Linked DNA regions of Homo sapiens: regions 2 and 3 are each linked to region 1. Evidence: fine-mapped expression QTL. A gene starts in region 1. Each other region holds a variant in brackets. All regions are shown on one strand. Distances are between the middles of the regions.

Evidence for each region. PIP is the estimated chance that this variant, and not a neighbour inherited with it, causes the effect. A credible set is the group of variants that fine-mapping cannot tell apart.
Region 2: its variant is the best candidate, but not a certain one, in a credible set for the expression of SPON1 in lung (TOPMed, PIP 0.62).
Region 3: its variant is the best candidate, but not a certain one, in a credible set for the expression of SPON1 in testis (GTEx, PIP 0.64).

Annotation. Positions count from the first base shown.
Region 1 is chr11:13,957,985-13,965,795 of GRCh38, reverse strand. SPON1 (spondin 1) reads right to left here and starts at 3,073. Exons shown (of 16, transcript NM_006108.4): 1 at 2,654-3,073. The coding sequence starts at 2,891. LOC124902637 (a long non-coding RNA gene) reads right to left here and starts at 2,639. Exons shown (of 2, transcript XR_007062602.1): 1 at 751-2,639.
Region 2 is chr11:14,249,809-14,257,619 of GRCh38, reverse strand. SPON1 (spondin 1) reads right to left here. Exons shown (of 16, transcript NM_006108.4): 8 at 2,891-3,092; 9 at 1,833-1,973; 10 at 928-1,003. Among named protein-coding and RNA genes, the nearest start is that of RRAS2, 110 kb to the left of the region's middle. The variant T/A (reference allele first, on the strand shown) is at 3,616.
Region 3 is chr11:14,013,316-14,021,126 of GRCh38, reverse strand. The region is part of intron 2 of SPON1 (spondin 1); the gene reads right to left. Among named protein-coding and RNA genes, the nearest start is that of SPON1, 54 kb to the right of the region's middle. The variant T/C (reference allele first, on the strand shown) is at 4,053.

The DNA of each region.
Region 1 (7,811 bases):
TTATTCTAAGAAAGAAGGAGCCAACAGAAAATGTCACAAACTAGGCCAGTACCTTTTCTTTCGGACTTTGAGTGGCAGAATCAGGTTTGCTAATTGCAGGATATTTACTTGGAAAACCTCAGCATGGTTCCTGCAAGATCTCTTCCAAGGTCTTTTAGCCATAAGAAGGGAGAAAAGATGATTGCCCAATCTATAGCCTGAGTTGGGGTGTCAAAGTCCAGATGGCTGTTTAGGCAGGAGTAGCCTGTAGGGTGAAAGTCCAGGACACTCCCTATCCAGTCCCAGTTCCCCACCTGCTGGCCCTGGACGTTTAGGTAGTTCTGAAACCTCTTTGGCCCCGTGAATACCAGCTGTATCTCCTTCCCAGTGCTAGGGCCACCAGCTGCCAATGCTCAACTAAAACACGGAGGATTAGTGTGAAAAGAGACGCTGGGTACACTTGGCCTGAACCTCAGACTAGTCTAAGTCACTGAAAAAATCTTCCTGGGCTTGCATTAGCAACAGTCTTAGGCAAGGCTCCTGATATGAAAAAATACCTCATTCATTCATTCAATTAATTCATGAGGACCCAAATAACCACTGGTAGATGAATGGGACTGGAGGAGAGCTGAGGAAACCTGCTTTCAAACGCACAACACTCTTCAAAAACAAAAATCTGATCAAGAACCTACCTCCATTAGTAAACCAATAAAGGCCTCACATTCAACTGTTAGGCTTATTAGGAATCTCTTTTAGCTCAGGCACACTCACCTTTGTAAACTCATTTACTCCCTACCACCAAGAGAGGGTGGATAAACAGCTTTTTTTTTTTTCCAGCTAGGAAATAGGTGCAGAGAAATTAAATGACTTGCACAAGGTCACACAGCGAGTAAACCCAAGTCTGTTGGACTCCAGAGCCACTTCTTTCTCTGCTACGTGGAGCGGGGACAGTTTCCCCTGTGAACTCAGGTCCTCAGTTTTGGGGAGGGCCGAATAGGCCACTGAAGTCATACCCGCTTCCCTGCGGTCCACAGGGAGGATCGGCCGCCTCCCGGCTGCACCGAGTGGCAGTCGCCGCCCGTCGGCGCGGCTCGCTCTAGCCGCGGTGCCAAGCCGCGCGCTCCCTCCCGGGCTGGGCGGGGTGTTCTCCGCCCAGAATCTTTCTTCGTGGAGTACCCAGGATCCCGCGGAGCTGCGCGCCGGGGTCAGACTGTTCCTCGCAAAGTGCTCAGCACGCCAAGGTGCCAAGGGCACCAAGGAGCCGGCTTTGGGTAGCTCCGGGTGGAGAAAGTCGGGGACACAAACCCGGGAAAGGGGGAAAAGCGCTCCAAGAAGGGTGGCCCCTGGCTTTGGTCTCCGGCGTGACCCTGGCGCCCGCTGACGCTGCCCCAGACTTTCTCCTGTGTTGCTCCCACCGCTTCCGTCCAAGGCTCTCTGGGGAACTGGGAAGGCGAGGAGGAAAGTACAGCAGCTGGGAGCCCATTTGCCCCACCAGGTGCCCCAGTGACCCGCTCATCCCTGCTTAGCACCAGAGCTGACTTATGAAGGGGCGAGGGTGAGAGGACACGCTCCCTGGCGGGAGCTAAGGTGAGGCCAGACAGGCTCGCTTCCCTTCCTGGTTACCTGTCCCCCACCCGGAGAGCGGCTGCTGCTGCACGGGGAAACGATGTCTGGGGAGATGACCCTGCTGAGGAGCGAGGTGGCGGGCGTGGGGACAGAGTCAGGCGTCTTCAGATCGGTGCTGGTCGAACTGCCTGTCCCGCCTAGGAGGCTCTCACCTGCTTGGACACCTCCTCCCTGAGCTCCCGAAACCCCACTCTCAGCCGAGCGGCGTAGGCGCGACATCCCTGGGACGTGGAGACTCCGAGCTGCCGGAGCCAAGGTTCCCCGGCCTCCAGGGAGCAGGCCTCGGGCATCGGGGCTTCTCTTTCCATCTTCATCCAATTCCCCTTGCAGCTCGGAGCTTACCCCAAGCTCTTTGAGGACCCTGTCCCCACTGGGAACCTGTTCTGGAAACCCAAGATACTCTATCTCGTCTGGGACCACGAGAGAATAATTTGGGGTTCTTTCCAAGGACCCTTTCGAGGAGCTTTAGGCTGTCCCTGCCCCTCCTTCCCGCACCCCGGGACCGGTTAGGGAGAAGCCAAAGTCCCTTCTCCTGAAGGGACCTATCCAGGGAAGCCGGAGTGGCTGTCCCGCCCAGGGCCAGTCTTTGAGAATCGGGTACCCTCTCCTTCAGGGACTGAGCGGGGAAAGCTGGAGTGGCTGCCTTGCCCGGGACCCGACCAAGAGAAGCCTGGGTCCCCTCCAGACCGATTTGGAGAAAGGCAGTTTTACTTCCCTCCTGCAGACGGCCGGGGGAGAAGCGAGCCTCCCTTGCAGTCAGGCCGGCGTGACGTGTGGCTCAGTTACATCCTCCGCCTGGGAACCGCGCGTCGGAAACGCGGGGTGCCTCTCCTGGCTGCGGCCCCCGCGACGGCCCGGGACGCTGGATTATGATCCGCGCCGAGCTCGCGACTGCAAGGGCCGAGGGCAGCCAGGACAGAAGGGCCCTTGCCGGGCTGCACCCGCGCCACGCGCCCGGAGACCGCGCGCCCTCCTCCGGCACCGCGAGGTCGGCGCCCTCCGGGGACCGGGTCCCGCTCTCCTAATGCCACGCCGGGCGGCCACTTACCGCGGTAGCTGGTTCCCGGCTTGTAGAAGTCGGGGTCGCCCTCCACGCGGAGGCTGAACTCGGTGTAGCCCTCGCGCCGCGTGCCCTGGGCGCGCAGGATACGGCTGCAGTAGCCCTCTGACTTGGGCACTTTGTCCAGGGTCTCGTCGGAGAAGGCCAGCGCCGCGGCCAGGGGCAGCGCCAGGGCCAGCAGTGCCGGAGTCCGGCTCAGCTTCAGGGGCGCCGGGGACAGCCTCATCTTCGCGGCCCCCAACTTTGTGCCGCGGCCGCAGGCCTTCGCCACGCGACTCCTGCCCGAAGTGGTCCCGACGAAGGCGCGACCTGGCGGAGGCGCGGCGGAGAGAGGGAGCTCGGAGCTGGCGTCCGCGACTCGGAGACCGTGCCCGCCTCGGCTTGGCGGCCGCGGAGCTGCGCTGAGCTGAGCTGAGCTGAGCCAAGCGAACGAGAGCAGCGCGAGGAGGGGAGGGCCGCGGCGAAGGAGCGGGAGGAGGGAGGGCTGATTTTGCCCAGATCCCCCAGCGCAGCGCTGTTTTGTTTCCTCCGAACTGGCGATTAGCGGCGCGGCCGTGTTTATTTTGCGACGTTGGATTCCCAGGGTCTGACGAAGAAACCGTGGCATACCGGACCCTGTGGGCTCTGTCCCATCGCCTAGGAGGCTGCTGCTCCAACCCCCAGCTACACTCCGGACCCTCTGGAGGACGGCGCTCAGAGGAGGGAAAGCCTGAGAAATAACTTTTGTTGCACACCTGCTCTGTGCCTAGCAATATGCTTGGCGGCTTACTTACTGTATCGACTCGCCTTCATGTTCCCTACTCCCAATAAAGATTACATTACTTTCGCTCACTTTATAGATGAGCAAACTGTGACTTGCGACCAGTTACAGCAGGGTTAGATGCGGCGACTCCGGGCCCATTGCTCTTCCCAAGGCCATAGTGGAACATGTCAGACTGGAGGCTGAGAAAGGAGAAACGACTTAGCTACAGCGCTTAGGGCCCACGATACTTTTGGAGATCTATGAAAATGTTTTCTGTAAAAATCAGAAGAAAAAATTTATGTCAAACAAAATGTTTTACTATATAATGTTAATATATTTGTATTTATACCTCCACAGTCATAAAATATGCTTGACTTGGAGGAAAGAGCCAGCAAAGGCAAAAGTGCCTAAGGCTCAGGAAGGTCCTCCTACAGCCCAGGAAAGGAGTTTCCAAAGATTCAATGAAGAGCCTGTGTTTTCTTGGCTTACATTTTAGTTCAGATTCTCACTCCCCAGGGACAGATGTTCAGAGAGGTGCTGAGCCTGAGGGCCTGAAGGGAAAAGACCTGGGGCAAGAATCTCTCCCAGTGTCTCTCTGGGAAGAGACCCGAATCAAACCTCAGTCCTGCCACTCACCCATTGTGAAGCTTGGGCTAGTTATCGCACTCTCCAAGCTTGTTTCCTGCTCTGGAGAACAAGGAAGTGGGGGTGGGTGCCAGTACATCCTTCTTAGAGGTAGTGGGGTGATATGCTAGAAGTAAATGATATGACCCATATAAAACACTCTAGTTGGTCTCTAGTGGCGCCTGCTCCCTCACCCGCTTGGGGATACCATAAGCCCCCTGCCTCTCAGTGCACACAAACATCCCTCCCCAGGTGCCCTCAGAAGCTTTGGTTTCCTCGTCTTCTCTTTGCCCAGGGCCTTCGACACACCTCAAGTGCCTACAATTAGCAAGCAATCTCCTTTGCTTTCCAGGTCAGGGTTTTCTCTTTCATAATGCTACAAACAGGCCCAGGGCGCTAGGTGCATGGGAGATCTCCATTCCTCCCTGCCTGCCCACTTACTCCTTAGTGCTTGTGCTGGAATTCCCACTGCCACTATTAACTGGACGCCTTCTCTCAGAGGTCACCTGAAAGTAACCCCTTGCTGAAGCCAATTATGCTCTTCTCTCATCCCTAGCCCTTCTTGACCCTAGCAGCACCTGATCCAGCTGATCGGCCCTCCTTTTTGAGGTGAGGCTCAGATCCATGTCTGAGTGCTGAGGGAATTGTCTGCATCTTCACTCGACTGGCTCAGAGCTCATGCTGCACTCCAAGTTGCACGGTCCCATTCATCCAGCAAACTTTCATTAAGTGTAGATTTGGAGCTAGACTCTGTGCTGACCGGTAGGTAGAAGACGGAACAAAAATTCATCCATCCATCCATCCATGCATCCTTCTATCCATCCATTCATTCATGACAAAGACCCTCCACGTGCTCAGTGCTTGGATACAAAACACAGATATGTTACTTGCCTTTGAGGATTTTACAGGCCTGTGGCAAAGGCAAATATTAAATACATAATTATATGAATCTTTTAAAATTATAATTGTGATGTATGCTACAAACTAAAATAAGTGGTTCTTGAAAGTGTACCTGATCTTATCTCAGAGGGCAGGAAACTACAGAAATGAATAAATTGTGACCCCTGTCTTCACAAAGCTTATTTTATGTCTGAAAGCTCAAATCTGTGCTCTTGAACCTCTATTCATCTACAAAAGGTTCAAATCTAAGTTGGAGATGGGTGGGCATGAAGTAGGCAGGAATGCAATATTTAACTTTTTATTGGATATTGACAGGAAAACTATGGGAAGTAGGCAGTCCCAATTCACCTCCGCACTCCCATTGTTCAGATTAGGAGCCTATGAAATTACCTGCTGAGGTAATGTTCCATGGCTATTAAGGGAAAGAGCCAGGATTTAAAACAGGCATCCCCAACACCAAATGAGGTACTTTCCAGTACACAGTGTTCGCCCTATCATCTGGGCTATGACGGCAGGCTCTAACCAGCTCACCAAGCTCCAATCCCACTACATGAGCTAGGTTTTCCTAAACCAGCTTGGCTGTCACTCAGACCTCTGCTGTCTTCTCCACTCATCCGATCCATCACCACATCAAGTTTCACGCTCTTCTCCACCACTACCCCTGTCTGTGTTGACATCCTCTCTCATCTTCCTAACTGGGTTGCCCTTGTCTACTTGTGCTCTCCTTCCATCTGTCTTCTGCACTGAAGCCCAAGTGATCTTTTTAAAAATGCAGATTTGAATGTCAATCCTGAGGTTAACATTTTTTCTTGGTGGTTTTTCAGGGCTCTCAGAATAAAGACAGAATCTTCAGCCAGGCCTCCAAGGCTCTGCTTGATCTGCTTCTCCAGCCATGCAGCTCTTCTCTCATGGGCTTTGCCTGTGCTGTTCTCTCTGCCTGGAATCCTATCATGCTCTTTGGTCTCTCCTAGCCACCACTCTCCATTGGCCAACTCCTATGTACTCTTCAGATCTCAGTGCAAAACTGCCTCCCCAAAGAAGGCCTTTCTGATTTCCTAGAATAGATCCAGCCCCCAAAACTCTGCTGAAGCTCATGAGTACCTTTTCTTTTAATCTCCTCCTCCTCCTCCTCCTTCTTCTTCCTTCTTCCTCCTCCCTCTCCTCCTCCTCCTTCTTCTTTCTCCTTTCTCCTTTCCTCTTTCTTCTTTCTTCTTGAGGCAGGGTCTTCCTATGTTGCTCAGGTTGGTCTCAAACTCTTGGGCTCAAGCAATCTTCCTGCCTCAGCCTCCCAAAGTGTTGGGACTACAGGCATGAGCCACCACACCTGGCTTCTTTTAATATTAAGATTTATAATGACCCATTGATTTATAAGTTTGATGTTTAAAATTTTACATTTGTTCAGTATTTGTCTCCATTCTAAATTCTAAGCTCCAGAAGGGTAGGGGATGTCTATGGGGCTTACCACTGTATTTTCCGTGCACATCGTAGTGCCCGGCCCCTGGTAGGGGTTCCATAAATATTTTTTCTCTGAATAAAAACTTTTTAACAAGCCTACCCTCAGTGCCTTCTGACTCTGCCCAAATTTTAAGACTTGGCCTCTAAGGCCATCCACAATCTGGTCTCACTGTGTCCATCTGGTCATGCCTGGTCATAGATCCCAATCTGAGCTCCCAGCACCACCCAGCTGGGCTCCCCGTGTCCTCCACTTCAGTATTGCCTCAGCACCTTTGCTTACAGCTTTCTCATGGCCTGGAATGCCCTCCCTCCTCCTGCCTGATTAAATTTTCCTCCATAGAATGAGATCCTGCAGTCTCCCCTCCTGTGGACTTCAGTAGAACTGAGGAGGAGAAAAAGTTTCCCATTTTGACTACTGTGGTCCAGTGGATTGTCATGAACTATTTCATGTGTCTATTTCTCATCTCCTAGCAATGAATCCAGTTTACTTTCCCCTTAATTTCCTGTTCAGATGTTTTGTTCTTTTGTAAAATATACTGGACTTCAAGAAATCTCCTTCCAGTTTTTGTAGCCTAAGGCAGAGCTGATGTCAGTTGCTAGGGTGTTGCTAAGGAAAGTCATTTAGCCAGGGCAGATAATTAACTTTATCAGTGTGTGTGGGTAGGTCGCAGAAGAGAAGAGCTGGGGGCTCCAGTTCTCCAAGGCGAGAAAAGTCCTTTGATTCATAGGAGGTAAGATCTCCCTCTTTTTTCTCCCCGCTTTAAGAGAGAAGGGGGAAAAGGATTTTCTAGATTAGTGTTTTTCTGAGTATGGTCATTGAAACATGAGCATCAGATGTTTGCTTCAAAGGCAGATTCCGAAACCTCATCCCAGACCTACTAAATCTGTACTTTGAAGAAAAACTCATACTGAAGTTTAAGGAACCGTCGTCCTAGACCGTAATTCAGACTTGAAGTACATGGGTTCCAGGCTGGCTCTTCTGTTTTCACCATGTGAAGCTGTGCAGTCTTGGAAAGTCACAGGACCTATCTACACGGATTATGTGCAAAATTGGACATAGTAATACCCATCTTGCCTACCTTGTGGGATTTTGAGAAACAAATGGGTAACTGAGATAATTTGTAAACTGCAATGAGGTCACAATAACCCCACCCAGTTATTATTGTTACTTTTATTAATTCAGAAAAAGAGTCTAGAAACTTTATGTTTTTGTTTCTCTTATATATAGAGTTAAATTGGACATTTTATAGAAAGGGATTTCTAGAGAAAGAAAACAGATAGGCAATGAAGGAGTTGAATTGCACTGAATAATCTATTGTAATCTGTGGTGAGGAGGCCTGGAAGCTGTCTACAGGTGAGCCAGCAAGTTTAAAGACTAAGTTATGGAAACTGAATACATACGTACATACGGTAAAAAAAAAAAAA
Region 2 (7,811 bases), 290 kb before region 1:
GCTGCCAGACTGACTTCAGTGAGCCTGGGTGCTCCTGGGATGGAAGCAGCCATCCACTTCCCTTTAAAGATAATAGTTTAACATCTTGCTAATAAATATCTAATCTAAATAAGCAGAATGATTCTTATTATCCCTTCCTCTCAACACATGAACGTCTTCTCATTTTCAGTCCCTCATCTTGGCATTGTTTCCAGACACATGCAGGCTCATTGTAGGTAATTTTGAAAAGCTCAAGGCTTATTTACATGCCATGGCTTCATCTTCCCAATGATCCCATACACAGTTGTCATGGTAAGAATAAGAGCAGCTGCTATTCATTGAGTACTCATCATGTACCAGCACCATTCTAAGAGCCTTACATGTTTTATCCCATTTAATTCTGACAACTGTATGAAGCAAGTTCTTTTATTATCCCCATTTGACTGTTGAGGAAACTGAGACAGAAAGGTTAGCTTCTTGCCCAAGATCACATGTCTACTGAGAGTCCAGGTTGTCTGGCTCCAGATCCCATAAGAAAACTTGAGCTTGAACCATGACTCTGTCGCTCCCTCCTGATTGTAGGATCTGGGCCTTTCTTTGCTTGCTAGGAAAGTGAATGTATCCACACCTGCCTCATAGGCTGGCCTGAGAATCGAAGCAGAGAGTGGTCTGAATCCTGCGAAGCCCATTAAAATGAGATTTACATGATTGTTTTAAAGGCCTGATGTTGTTGAGTATATATTCTGATGTCATATCTTCACCAATTCCCTTATGCTTTGGGCCTAACCTTGGCCTTGTTTTTGATTATTTCTTGAGGAGAAATCCTCAGAGATATGATTACCAAGTCAAAGCACATGGTTTATGGTTCTTAAAACAGGTTAGCAAATTGCTTTCTCAAAGGGTTATGTCAATTTATGTTGCCACCTGCAACAAAAGAAAACAACGTACCTTCATCTTTCTCTTCTGGAGCCAGGTCAGCTACAATATCATCGACATTGTCAGGTACAATATTGCATTGTTCACCCTGAAAAAGGAATTTTACTTGGAGGGCTCACATGAGAGAAAGAAGGGAATGTGTAGGGGGAAGGTGAAAGAGGACTAAAATCTAATCGCCATTCTGTATACAAATCGTATGCCATGGCAAAGTTCTGGACCAACATTTACAATCTGCCTGAGAAAGAAATGCCAAGAAAGCAGGAATGGCTAACCAGGGATGATAAATACATAACTTGGGTACCACCACTCCCCAGTTCCTGGCCCATGGCAGATATTAGTAATCAATTGCAGAACTCACAATGAAAGCAATTTGCCTGGATCAAATTGTTCATTTGAGCACTGGGCCTCACTGCTGAGTTAATTTTGCTCATTTTCTTTTTTTTTCTTTTTTCTTTTTGAGATGGAGTTTTGCTCTTGTCACCCAGACTGGAGCGCAATGGCGCAATCTTGGCTCACTGTAACCTCCACCTCCAGGGTTCAAGCAATTCTCCTGCCTTAGCCTCCCGAGTAGCTGGAATTACAGGTCCCTGCCACCATGCCCAGCCAATTTTTGTATTTTTAGTAGAGATGGGGTTTCACCATGTTGGCCAGGCTGGTCTTGAATTCCTGACCTCGGGTGATCTGCCCACCTTGGACTCCCAAAGGGCTGGGATTACAGGCATGGGCTACAGTGCCTGGCCTGCTTATTTTCATCTTATGAAATAATTTGCATGTTAGAAACCTGGGGAGGCCCAGGAATTCCATATCCTGAGGTGCTTTCTGCCAGTGACTCTATGATTCTAGAGCAGAAGGGTGTACAATCTCCCTGGCACTCCTACCGGGAAAGGTCGATGCCAGAGTGGGTTCTAACCCAGTACCTTCCGTGCGATTCTCTCGATGACAACTCTGGCTACTTGAGTGATGGACCCACCCTCTGGGTCATAGAAAGGACTCTGAGGATGGTCCAGGCTGGTCAGGGGCCGGATTTTCTCCTGGGGAATGGTGGGTTTGTTGGGTGACTGCAAGAAAACATACAGAGGTAGAGAGTAAGAAATAAAATTGGGAAAACCCACAAAAGCCATTTGTTATATGGATCAGAGCAAAGTCCTTGATAGGAATTTAACAAGCATAACTACTATTTATATTTATGGAATTGTGTTCATGCCACATACTGTGCTGAGAAATTTCTAGAACTATATTTTAAAATTCTTCCATGTCCATGGTAGGATTGTGCTAAGATGAAGAAGCCAAGTTTCAGAGAGGCCATCCCAGCTAGGAAACGGCTGAGCCAGGTTGGCCTGAATCCCAAACTCTTTCTAATAGACCCGGCATTGGAAAACTTTTTTAGTAAAGGGCCAGATGCTAAATATTTTAGGCTTTGTGAACCATATTGTGTCTGTTGCTAATATTCAACTCAGCTGTGGTAGTGAGAAAACAGCCGCAGATAATATGTACTTGGAGGAGTGTAACTGGCTTTGAAAACTTTATTGACAAATCACATTGTAGGGCAGATTTGTCTTCCAAACCATAGTTTGCAGATGTCTGTTCTAGATTGTTCTCCCATTGGTTTTCTGATGGCTCCAGATTTCAATGCAATAGATCATATCAGAGAAATATGACATTCAGGACAGAATGCAAACTCCTTAGCCCAGCTGTCCAGAAACCTTCGCTCTTGCAGTCATGGCTTTGGAATGCTGTCCCCTGCTCACCTGGGAACTGCTCTTTAGCAGTTCCCTCTCCGTGCTCTCCTGGCCACTGCACAGACAGTTCCCAGAGCCCAAATTACACCATATGTGATGATGCGACCATGCCAGCCTCCCCAGCCAGACTGAAAGTTCACCTAGGACAGAGCCTGGGACAGATCCCCTCTGTGTCCAGGACACTCAGGAAGCGGGTAGGCAAGGAGCCACTCACCACTCCAGGCACACACACACACCTCATAGGTCACCCCGCTGTCGGTGCCAGCGTCCCAGGGAATCAGGTCTTGCACCACCTTCTGGACCCAGCCACATTCCTTGGTGCACAGATCTTCTGCAGATAAGCCTACGTTCCAGTCGGGACTAGGGCCCATCATGGTCAGGAAGGACATTAAATGGCGCGTTCTGTCCACGGAAAATTCAGCTGAAGGTGCTGCTCTCCTGGAAACGAAATACAGAGACCATTATATTAGAGTTCTGGGGGTTGGTCCTCACTCTGAGGGAAATCTGCCTGGATTATGAAGAATGAGAGGGACAGAGAGTATCCACATTCGTGGTCTCCCACTGAATTCTGCCTTTGGCCACTGTGGGTTTATACCCTTCTCTGTCCTGAGCCCATCCATTGAACAAATGTGGAGAGAACCATATACTACCACCCTATCCAGTTTCTCTTTTTGTTTTTCTTTCAGAGACAGAGTCTTGCTCTGTCACCCAGGCTGGAGTGCAGTGGTGTGATCATGGCTCACTGTTGCCTCAAACTTCTGGGCTCAAGTGATCCTTGCACCTCAACCTCCCATCAGAGGGGTCATCTCCCCCAGCTTCCTGTTTCTATTGCCCTCAGAAGGCTGCCAATAGCAGGCACTGTCCAGCGCCAGACTGTACCCATCAGCTCACAGCTGGGAAGCAGGGACCAGCTGTAGAGTCAGAGACCTTTGGCCGACACCCCCAGTTGCTGGGAATAACA[T/A]CCTGAGTCTAAGCTATCAGAGGCCGCTCTTCAACCTCTCTCTTTGTGTCACACAGATTCTCAGGAGTGGCTGGGACCATGTGAGATACATGGCAGCAACCACTCAGAGTGGCTGGAAAGGAAAGAGTCACATTCGCAAAGCACACAGCGGGTGGCAGTCCCATATTATTTCATTTTCCCCTCATGACAATCCTGTGGGGTTAGAATTATTATCCTGTCTCATAGAGAGGCCATGAAAGTGAATAAGTGGTTAATGAACTAATAGACACAGCTAGGAGGGGGCTGAGGCTTGAAGGCAGCTTGGCCTGACTCTGCACCCCAAGGCTGCTAATCATGGGGAATCCTTGGCCAGAGACCAACTGTTCTGTTCAGTCCAGCTGGCAGCTGGTCTGCCTCAGCTGTCTGGAAGTCCCTGTGCCCTCTGTTGGGACCAGCTGCTTCTGGCTGCCCTCACCTGGCACCAGAAAGCAATGACTGCAGACCCGACTGGGGCCTGGGGAACTGGGCCCCTTGGGCTCTGGTATCACCTGTTACAGCTGTGTGTCCTTGGGCAGATTATCAAACCTTTCTGCGTCTCAGTGTCCAAATCTTTAAAATGGTGATCACATACGTCTACTCCAAAGGGTTCCTGTGAATTTCAAATGAGCTAGCTTGCAGACAGTACTTAGCCCATTGCCTGGCCCTAGAGCTCTTATTACCATTAGTGTTACTGAGAGAAGTACTGTAGGATCGTATGGAGATCAGAAAGGGGACAGGTGGGAGGAAAAGCCTTCCTGAATGGACTTTCCATTTTAGCCTGATGCCAGTCTAGGTTCTGCCACAGGAGTGGAGAAGAACCTGGCCTGAGCCTTGGCTTTGGCATCCGTCGATTGACAAGGTCCTGGTGCTGCCTCCCATGCACCCCCTCCCTTATCCCACACTACCTGCTACCTAAGAAGCTCCCTGGGCCCTGACAGGCCAGTCTACCTGCAGGTTAGCTGCAGGTTCCACTTGTACTTGCATCTATTGGGCAAGCTCTTCAGTGATTGGAAAAGTGTGGTCCTTGGACCAGCAGCATCAGCAACCTCTAGGAACTTGTTAGAAATACAGATTCTTGAGCCCCACCCTATATTTGCTGAATTAGAGACTTGGGGTAGGACCCAGCAATTTGTTTTAATAATCCCTCCAGATTGTAATACACCTCAAGCTTGAGAATGCTGGGCCCACTCATCTTTCAAGCCTCAGGTCATGTCACCTCTTCCAGCAGCCTTTCTGCCTGCCTTCAGCTGAGGCAGATACATAGCGCTGGATTCCCACACTCTGCGCAGGTCTTGCCTTCAGCTGAGGCAAGTACATAGCGCTGGATTCCCACACTCTGCGCAGGTCTTGCCTTCGGCTGAGGCAAGTACATAGCGTTGGATTCCCACACTCTGCGCAGGTCTTGCCTTCGGCTGAGGCAAGTACATAGCGCTGGATTCCCACACTCTGCGCAGGTCTTGCCTTCGGCTGAGGCAAGTACATAGCGCTGGATTCCCACACTCTGCGCAGGTCTTGCCTTCGGCTGAGGCAAGTACATAGCGCTGGATTCCCACACTCTGCGCAGGTCTTGCCTTCGGCTGAGGCAGATACATAGCGCTGGATTCCCACACTCTGCGCAGGTCTTGCCTTCGGCTGAGGCAGATACATAGCGCTGGATTCCCACACTCTGCGCAGGTCTTGCCTTCGGCTGAGGCAGATACATAGCGCTGGATTCCCACTCTGCGCAGGTCTCCATAGCCAGACCCCATGAATGTAATCACTTCCTCACTGTTCCCTCTCCCCAGCTTAGACCGGGAGTTCCTTGAAGGAACTCTGTGTTTCATAGCTGTACCCCAGGACCTAGGTGTCCAGTGGGCCGACTGAACAAATATGCGTATGATGACTTGAACTCCTCCACTTCTAGCTTTAGATCTTGGGCAAGTTGCTCACCCTCTTCAAGTCTCAATATCTTCATCTAGCAATACATACCTGCAGTGTTGCTGTCAGGATCAAATGAGATGCTTTATTAGGAAGTCTTTATAAACTGCTAAAGTATTGCAATGACATCATCAGCTACTTAGGCACAAATCAGGGGATTTAATTTCCTTTTCCCACGTGTGCATTTTCTGGCATGTAGGTCAGTGATTTTAGCAGCTTCTTTAAAGACCTGGTTCACACAAGGATTGCAGTCTATGGAGGTGTGGCATTACCTCGCCTAGGGACTCACAGGACGGGGTTCTGGTCTGCCTTCTAGTAACTGCTGAGCAGACAGCACTGGCACCTGGGTGCAGCTGTCCTCTGGGGTGGTCCAGCAGTCCCCTGGGAGGCAGGTTTCCTCTTCCATTGTCATAGAGACTGACCGCTCCATCTATTGCCTTCCTGTCTTCCTAAGTAGGTGATTTGGGGCCAGATTAGTCATTCATATCCTGTACCCCATGGGTGACTATTCATAATGACAATCTAAGGGGACAAAACCAGTTCTAATCCAGAGCTGTAGAAACCAAACCAACTGCCACCCTAACACATTACCCTGGAACCTGCCCAGCCAATGGGTGTAACCATCTGAGACCAAGGCCTTGTGGAAATCATTCTCAGTAAATGCATTTTGGCCCAATCTGTTGTATCCAAATCTGTAGCTGAAGCGAGATACCCTCTAGACCCTGGTAAGTGTTTCAAGGTGTGGGAAACGTGGGGCGGCCAATTCCTGACTATGAGGTCACATGGCTGACTTATCTTGGGTGATAGAGTAAATCTGAATCTATAAGGGCCTGAGAACAATTTGATAGCATTTTCAGATATGCCCTGCAGCTTTCTCTTATCCTTGACTGGAGAATCCCTCCTTGACCCCATTTATGTAACATTTCCTGGAGGAGGTATTTCCTGACCTCTCCCCAAATTGCTTAGAACTCCTATTCTACCTCCCCATAGCATGCTGAACTCACTCTTGCTTTGGAATTTTTTGTTAATATCTGCCTTTCCCATCAGGTTCCAATAGAGTGAGGACCATTTCTGCCGTGCTCATAGCTATATCCCAATGTCTGGCTTAGAACTTGGCATGCCATGGATTCTCTTCAAATGTTTGTTGAAGTAAATGACTTAATCTAAGAAATGAACATGGAGCTCTTGTATTTCCTTTGACCTTCAAATTTAATTAAGCATCACTTCAAAGTATTTATTCTATAATAAAAATAATTAAATGAATAAGAATCTATATGAGTTTTCCTTAGAAAATGCTAGATAGGACTGGAGTGCTTTAATTTGTTCAAACTGTCATAAAAATTTTTATGCTTTTGTATATGCCATGTCTTCCAAGATATATTTTGTTAATTTGGTTTCATCTTTCTACCTGGGACTTAGATTTGTATCCGTTTTCTAGCAGAGAGTTGATCTAGCCATACCATATACCAGAGTATATGATAAAGCATGATAGACAAAATAGCGTGATATTCAGGTAAGATAGAAATATAAATCAGCAATACAGACTGGAGATCCCAGAAACTATAGATAAGGACTATACAAAATAGGCTTTTCAAATTAGGGGGAAAGGAAAGATTGTGCGACAAGTGGGGTTGGGCTAAGTTAACTGTAATAAAAAAAAAACTGGATTCACATTTAATATACCACACAAGAAAAAAAAAAAACAGACCCAGAGTCAAATAGAAAATAACCAGATCATAGAAAAAAATAAAGCTTTCAGATCTACTAGAGAAATATTAATTTTTTCAACTTTGAAACAATAAAAGCAATTATAAAGAAAAGAATTGAATTATCTATCAACGAAGACCTTCTGTAAAATGAAAACAGCAGTACTGAATTGGAGAGAAAAATGACATGCTGGCAAAAAATGTCTCCATTGAGTGTGACTGACAAAGTGTTAATATCTATATTATCTACAGAGTTAATCCAAATATGTAGAAAAAGACAATGATCCCACTAGATAAAGAAAAGTTATGAACAGACAATTCACATCAGATATGAAGACCCAGAGAAATGTTTCCTTTTTCTACATTTGGAGAGGCAGCATGGTGTGGAGGAAAGAACCCAGGGCATTGGTGACAGTCAGAGCTGGATTCGAATCAGCTGTTTATTTAATAGCTATGTGATGAGGGCTTCCACCTCACCTTTCTTTGCAATTACTACATCTGCCAAATGGGAGCATCATCATCCTACCCCAAGGTTTTATTGTGAGAAAACTGCTT
Region 3 (7,811 bases), 55 kb before region 1:
GTAGAAAGTGAATTGTGCCCAGGATTTTACCTCCCAGATAAAACCACCTGTTGGATCATTATATCGTGATATTCTGTAACCTCATTTCTTTCTCTTAACATCTTATAAACAATCTTTTAAACATACATGTAAATCTGCCAAATCTTTTTAAATTACTGCATAATAATCTGTGCCAGAAATATTCAGTGTATTTCACTTATATCTGCATCCTTATTCCTCACTATAGCTCTATGAGTTAGTATTATAATTATCCCATTTTACAGCTAAAGAAACTGAGTCCCAGAAATGTTCACAGAGAGCTGAGGTCACACAGCTGGTAAATGGCAGAACCAGAATTTAAACCCTGGCTGTGGGACTCCAGAACTTCAGTTCTTTTCTACTGTTCCTGGTATTCCACTGCCAAGATGTACTACCATTTATTATAATTAATCCTATATGATGGGCTTTCAGATCAGATCAATCACCCCTCTTTTTTTGTTTTGCTATAACAAACAAGGCTGCAATCAACATCCTCGTACTTACATCAGCCTCCACTTGTCTAAATTGGCCAGTTGAATTAATTCCTAGAAGTGAAATTTCAGAGTTAAAGGGTATGAGCATTTTAAATTTTGGCACACAGTGCCAAACTAATACAAATTTTGGATTAATTTGCACGCCTACCAACTGCATATGATAGAGATCACCATTCTCTTCTTAACCCTTGGCATCACTGAATCTGCACTGGCAATGGTCACTCTGACCTCCTCACTGCCAACTCTGACAGCTTTTTACAGCCTCATTCTGCTCAAAGCTCTGCCAGATGTACCCCTGTAGACTTGCCTCTCCCCCAGCTCTTCCCTTTGGGGTGCTTCTCTGGATTTCTTCTCCTATTTCCTTGGCATTTGAAATCTCTTCCCTGGCCCCTGTTCCCTATAAGACCTATGAATGTCATGGAGTCCTGGGTTCTCCTCTTGTCCTCTTCTCTAAATGTCCTCCCTCCCTAGAGTGGTGCACATTCTTAATTACTGGCCCAACAGCCATTCCCTCCTTCTCTTTTGCTAAAAGACCCTATTTGTTTAGGATTTACAGTGTCCAACCCCAGAGATTGAATCATGACTGGTCTAAACCAATTATGGCTATCCTGTTCCTTTCCTTGAGTTTCAGGTGACCATGTGACCTGCTTTTGGCTAATGAGAGGTACAGAAACATCAGCCAGGAGGCTTCTGGGATTTTCCTCTCTGACAAAAGGGGTAGTGGCCTATGAGGAGAGTGTTTTCCCCCACTATCCTCCTTCTCTCCTATTTAGAACACTGTTGGTGAGGGTGACATGCTTTGAGCTAGTGTGGCCAATTTATGAACCGGAGGAGCTAGCACAGCCATTTTATGGAATAGAAGAGAAAGGCTGAGTGAATCACAGAGCTACTAGTCCAGGGACCTGATGTCACTGAGCTGCTAAAAGAATGTGGAAGCCATTTATCTCCAAACTCCTTGCTAAACAATAAAAGAACCCATGATAAAAGCCATGATTGGATTTTCTGTTTCTTATAGCCAAATACCTCCTAAGAGATACATAATGATCATACATAATGATCATATATAATACTCTACCTTGATGGTGTCAACCCAGGTCCTTGAGTCTCAGAACTATATAATGATAATAATTAATAACAATAAGTTATCAAGTGCCTGTTATGATCTAGAACCTAAATTATATATATAATCATATACAATTTTATATACATTGTATATTTATATAATTATACACATTATAAAATTACGTATAATATATAATTAATATACATAATTTTATGTAAAATTTAAATATCACAACTACTCTATAAGGTTAAGTGCCATTATTCCCATCTTATTAGTGAGAAAACTGAACTGAGGCACAGAGGGATTAAGTAACTTACCCATGGTCATAAGTCTCCTAAGTGGCTGAGCTAGGATTCAAACCGGGGCAGTCTGGTCTCAGACTCCATACATCCAAATACTATGGATGACTAAAGGAACCTTGAATTGTACAGGTCCCAAATGGAGCTCATCAGCCTTCTCCCTCATAAATAGGCTCCTCATTCAAACTCTGTCTTGGTCAAGGCAGAAACTTGGGACTCTCTTTGGACTTGTACTTCTCTTTTCTACCCCATGTCCAACTGGTCACCACATACTGACAATTCTACCTTCTAAACATATTCTGAACTATTCTGCGATGCCTGGCTTGCAGTAAATGCTTACAAGTGCTGGCTGCTATTACCAGGCTCTTCATGACTAAGCTGCTGCTTCTTTTCAAATCTTTCAACCATCCTAAAACCTCCAGCCCACTGAACTTGCCTGGTCTACTGGCTCTTGTTGTACCGTTGGAGCCTTTGTATAGACTGCCTTTACTGCATTGAATGCCCTGTGCTACACTCTCCCTAATTAATTCTTCTACAATGTAGCCCATGTGTCAGGCCCACTAGGAGGCTTTTTCTGACTTCTCAACCTCCACAAATTGTTCTCCCAGCATGCTCTGCAGATCTCTGTCTCTGGCCTTATCATACTGCAGTTTAGTCATTTGTTTACTTATCTTTTCTCATCCATGTCAACTCCACATTCCCAAACCAAGTTATAACCTCCTCAGGAGAAGGATACAATATTTCAAACTCAATCCAGCCCCTTCCTTCAGCCCCTGCCCCTCCGTTGGTCTCTCAGTTACTGGCATCATTAAACTAGAAATTTCCATGTCATTTCTAAACTGAACAAGCCAATTTCTACCTCTGAAATGTTGTTTGAATCTATCCTTGCCTCTTCATTCCTAAGTGACTACCTGGATGCCTTAAGATCTCAGGCTTGATAGTTATGACAGAGTAGATCCTATTTCCATTTGGGACCTACTAAGGGCTTCCTGCAGAGTTGAGAGGTGAAGCTCATTGTCTGAAAGGTGGTCAAATTTGAACAAAGGCCGTCTAGCTACTTGTAAATGGATTATATCCATGTATTGAAATATATCTTACATTTTCTACCCACAAATTCGCAACAAGACCCAAAGACTCTAAATAGTACCTTGTTCCATGGTTATTTCATAAGAAAAGTGAGCTAAAGAATTGTTCAGTAGCTCCAGCAAAGTCTTCTTAAAACCAAGTATAGTATAAGTTAATTAATCAGGCAAGTGATCAATAAAATACAAGAAATGCAGCATTAAATAATACTGAGCTGCTCATTCCAAATAGTCCGACTCATTAGTTTGATCAATACATTACAAAGATGTAACAAGTGTAAAAACACAAGGGGCCTAAAAATACTTAGTTGATGTATTGCATCCATTATCAGAATGCACATATTTTTCAAGACACTTAGGTAGTCCCAGCAAATCCAACAATTAACTTTTGAAATAGCCAAATAGTAAGCAGAGTTTTGGTGAAGGTCTTCTATTCAAGCGTCCAATTTTGCAAATATTTGGAAAGACAGTGTGCCCAATGAAATATGCCTGAACTAGGGCTCAAATGGCCCTGCTACTTTAGGCAAGGTGGCCTTAGGCAAGTTGTTCAACCTCTAACTTTTCATCTGTAAAATTTGGGTAAGAATCCAGTTCTGTCTCCATCACAAGGCTGTCACAGAGCTCAAATGACAGGATGAATATGAACACAGTTTAAGCACTACTAAGTTCTCTAAGAATAAAAGCTGCATTTTGCAAAAAAGTCAGTCCATCTCTAAGGCAGGCACACGAGAAGAGAAGCTTTATTCATAGATTACTAAAAAACTAAGCTAATTTTAAAATTCTTTAAAGCATAGTCTGAAAACAATGATGTAATTAAAACAAAACATTTTGACACTGATTTTTTTTTAAATTAAAGAGCTGGGGATCTTTAGAATATGAGCCTAACTCTTTTTATTTGTGACCTCCATGGCTTTCAACTCAATGACAATGCTTAAAGAAACAATGACATTATTTTGGGGTCCTGAACCAGTTATACCTGGTCATTTGTTCAACCTCAACTTGAAAAGTGGTTTGTAATATTTTCCCTAATACCTCTGGAGAGTAAAATTAAATTTCTCACCAACATAGGAAAATGCAGCATATGCCAGGAAGGTCA[T/C]TGCCAATGAAAATGGGCCTGACACCAGCCCTGGAACATACAAAAGTTTCCCTTACACCGTAGCAATCTCTGGGCACCTGAAAAGAGGCCCTAAAGGCTGCTTTGCAAAGTTAGAGTGCCCTGTGCCCATCCTGGTAGCAAAAGTCTGCTGATCTGCTGTCAGCTACTGTGCAACACATGGAGGTCTTACTGGCCACATGCAGTGCCCAGCACTTAGTAGGTGATCAGGAAGCGTTGCCTGAATTGAAATGAAAAAAATGGCACATTATCTTCTGCAATGTGAAACCAATAGTGTGAGTCAACAGCCAGCTTCTTGACTTTCCCAATTTTAGTCTCCAAAACACTACTAAAATTATCATTTTAAAATTCCATTTTTAAAGTATTAATTTTAGATTAAACCAGATATGAGCTATCCTAAATTCTTTTTGAACAAGATTGGGTATATATTTCTTTTTTTAATGTGAGTATAAAAATATAACAGAAAAAAAACCCTTACTCTGAGAACTTGTTTTAAAGTACCCAATTGCAATAAACGAATAGTATGTTCAGTTGACTGCTAATCAAATTTAGAAAACAATAATCAATGCTATAGTTACATGGGTCCAAATAAATTATTTTGATATAAATGTATACTTAGATGGATATACTTCTGCCTTCTTGCTGACCCATAGAAAGCACATCAGTCTTCACCTGACAGATGTTTCACCAGTTAAACTTTCTCACACGTTTGCACAAGTAAAAATGTAAAGATCATAGAATTGGTTTTGTAAGCCACTTAGCCTCTTGGCAGTTCAGTTAAATGGATTGAGTTAAATGAGATCACATGTGTAAAGTGCGTAGCACTTAGTACATGCTCCCACAAATAGTAAACACTGAGAAAGGAAGGAAAGAAAGGAGGGTATACCCAAAAAGAAAGGAAGTTCCTGAGGCACCACCAGCAGGGAATCTAGGAAGAGGGAACTGCCATCAGAGCTTCTTCCCCTTTTCTTCCTTTCCCTTCCCAGCAAATGAATATAAAAGAATTAATCCCAAGATTGGATGACTCCAGAGAATAAGTCATCAACTATCCTGCCCTCTGCGGCCATCTGCACTGAACCATGAGAAGAAAAGGCAGTACTTGACACTTCAGAGATCCCTCCTAGAATCCGTGGCAACATGAACTTACCCCAGCCTGCTATGAGCCGGTCAGATAAGGCAGGTAAAGTCAAAGGTGACCTAGAGCCTGGATATTGTCCCTGAGACCCTGAGCCTCTGACACACTGCATTCAGGCAGCATGACTCACTCCATTCCTAACAAGGACATCGCCAAACAGCCAACATAAATATACAATGACTTACCTCCAATAGTTTCTTGTTCTTTGGTAATGGAAACACAAAAGCTTTGTTACTGAGTTTAAATTTACCCATAGTTAACAAGTGTCAATCAACCACATCTTTGACATATCAATTCAGAAATTATCAGAAACCTTAAGCATGTTTATGTTTCTGGGAAACCATCTTAATAAACTAATTTAAAATGTAAGTAAAGCATTCCTTGTGGCTATGGTCTGAATGTCCCCTAAAATTCATATGTTGAAAAGTAATAATCAATGTGATACTATTAAGAGGTGGAGGCTTTAGGAGGTGATTAAGTCATGAGGGCAGAGCCCTCATAAATGGGATTAGTGACCTTATAAAGGTCTTAAGAGATGAAACTGCTTATATTATCCCTTCTACCACCTGAGGACACAGTGCTTGTCCCCTCCAGAGCATGCAACAAGGCACCATTTGGAAGCAGAAAACAGTCCTCACCAGACACTAAACTTGCTGGCACCTAGATCTTGTACTTCTCAGCTTCCAGACTGTGAGAAATACATTTCTATTCTTTATAAATAACCCAATCTGTGGTATTTTGTTATAGCAGCATGAATGGACTATGACACTGGTCATACAGGTTATTCTGAGCATTTACACTCATAAGAAACAAGAAATAAGCTTTGAGCCAAACCTCAATGGGGAGAGGTTAAGTAGACTATGTTGTGCCCATTAAAAATGAGGCCTGCCCACAATTCTGTTAAGATTTTCTCCATAGACAGACAAGTGTGTGTGTGTACGTGCACAGACATACACAAAGACACATTTGTTTACAATAGAAGAAGGGTAAAAATCTATAAGGCCAGTAATAGTAACATCTATACAATGAGACATTTAAAATTTCATGTACCTCTGTATCTTTGTATTATAGCATGCATGTACTATTTTTATAATTAAATTAATACTTTAAAAAAGTATTTAAAAAGGCCACAGTCACAAATCTGCATGAGAAGAGGCAGGCCTCTGACCTGGTCCCTTGGAAATGCTTCCTGTGTTTTGTGTCCTTTAGTTTACAGTTGAAGATATGGCAGGTGCTCCTCCATTTAATACCAAAGATATTGGATGAAGGCGCAAATGCCCGACAGTAGGATTCTATGCCATCTCTCATGCACAGTGACGCCCCACTCAGTTTATTGTTGTTCACCACTGCCATGGACATAGCACCAGACCTTTCTCCTCCCAAACTCCAGATAGTCTCCACCACTTGATCAGAATTGACACATAAGATGAAACCTGCCATAGTTCCTTGAATCCAGGATGCCATTGCGTATAAGAGGTATCAATGATGCACTAACAGTTTATCTGGAAAAGGAATCCTACATTTCATGTACATATCAATTGTAAGATGCATTCTGACTTGTAAAATGCTACAATGTTAAAAATGGGCATTTTTGAATCTGTGGAATGCTGTGGTCACCCTCCTTGGTCTATGACAACCCCTCCTTTCCCTTCCCACCGATGGCCTTCCATGCCTGCTACCATCTCACTTGCTGTTAAGAAGCTACAGCACAGACATAAGGCACCAGGCTGCACCCACCTTGTCCACGTAGCTGCAAGATGAAGATCTAGGAGCCAGAAGTCACTGGCAGCCTCAGGTAAGCCAAGGCAGTTTGGGCTGGGCCAGAGACGGGAGTATGTGGGTCCTTCACACAGAGCTTCTCCCCCAGCATTAACTTCCAATTTGATGACAGTCAGAAGCTTCAGAAGAACCAGGCTTCTCTGATTACTATGTTTAATACTCCCCTTTCCCTAAAATCCACGATAATGGAAACAGGCTTTGACTTTCTTTTTCCCCGCTACAAAACACCCAAGGAAGAAACACCCTACAGGTTTGGGAAATCATTGCTGTATGGGCTTGAGCAAGAAGTAAATAACCTCTCTGAGTCTCTTCCTTCATCTCTAAAATGTTCATAACACTTTTCCTAGATTGCTTGTGAAGATTAGAGGTCAAGGAGACAGGGCACCCAGTCTAGAGCCTGGTATACAGCAGGTGCTCAGTAAATCTAGTGAGCCAGATTTCCTCTAGTTGGTAAACTGATTGCTCAATTGGCAATGTATACAATATTAGCAATATGACCTGAGAGAAAGACAAGCAACTTTCAAAACTACATTTAAGTTGTATGTACCCCAGAAGATCCTACTCAATAGGCAGGCAACACAGTCAATGGGACTTCAGGCAATTGCAGCCACAAACCCATTGGTGAGTTAGAGAATTGGGGGAAATAAGCTCCTTAACTCCCTCCTCCTTTCTTTTATTCCCCAAACAGAATGGCCAAGTTTATTAATTGACAGTTTTACTCAGAGAATGGCTCTAAAATGACTATAATTCTTTACTAATAGAGTAGATTTTTTTATTCCAAAACCTGACCAAATGGAAGTGGAGTAGAGTAGGTTTAGATTTCACAG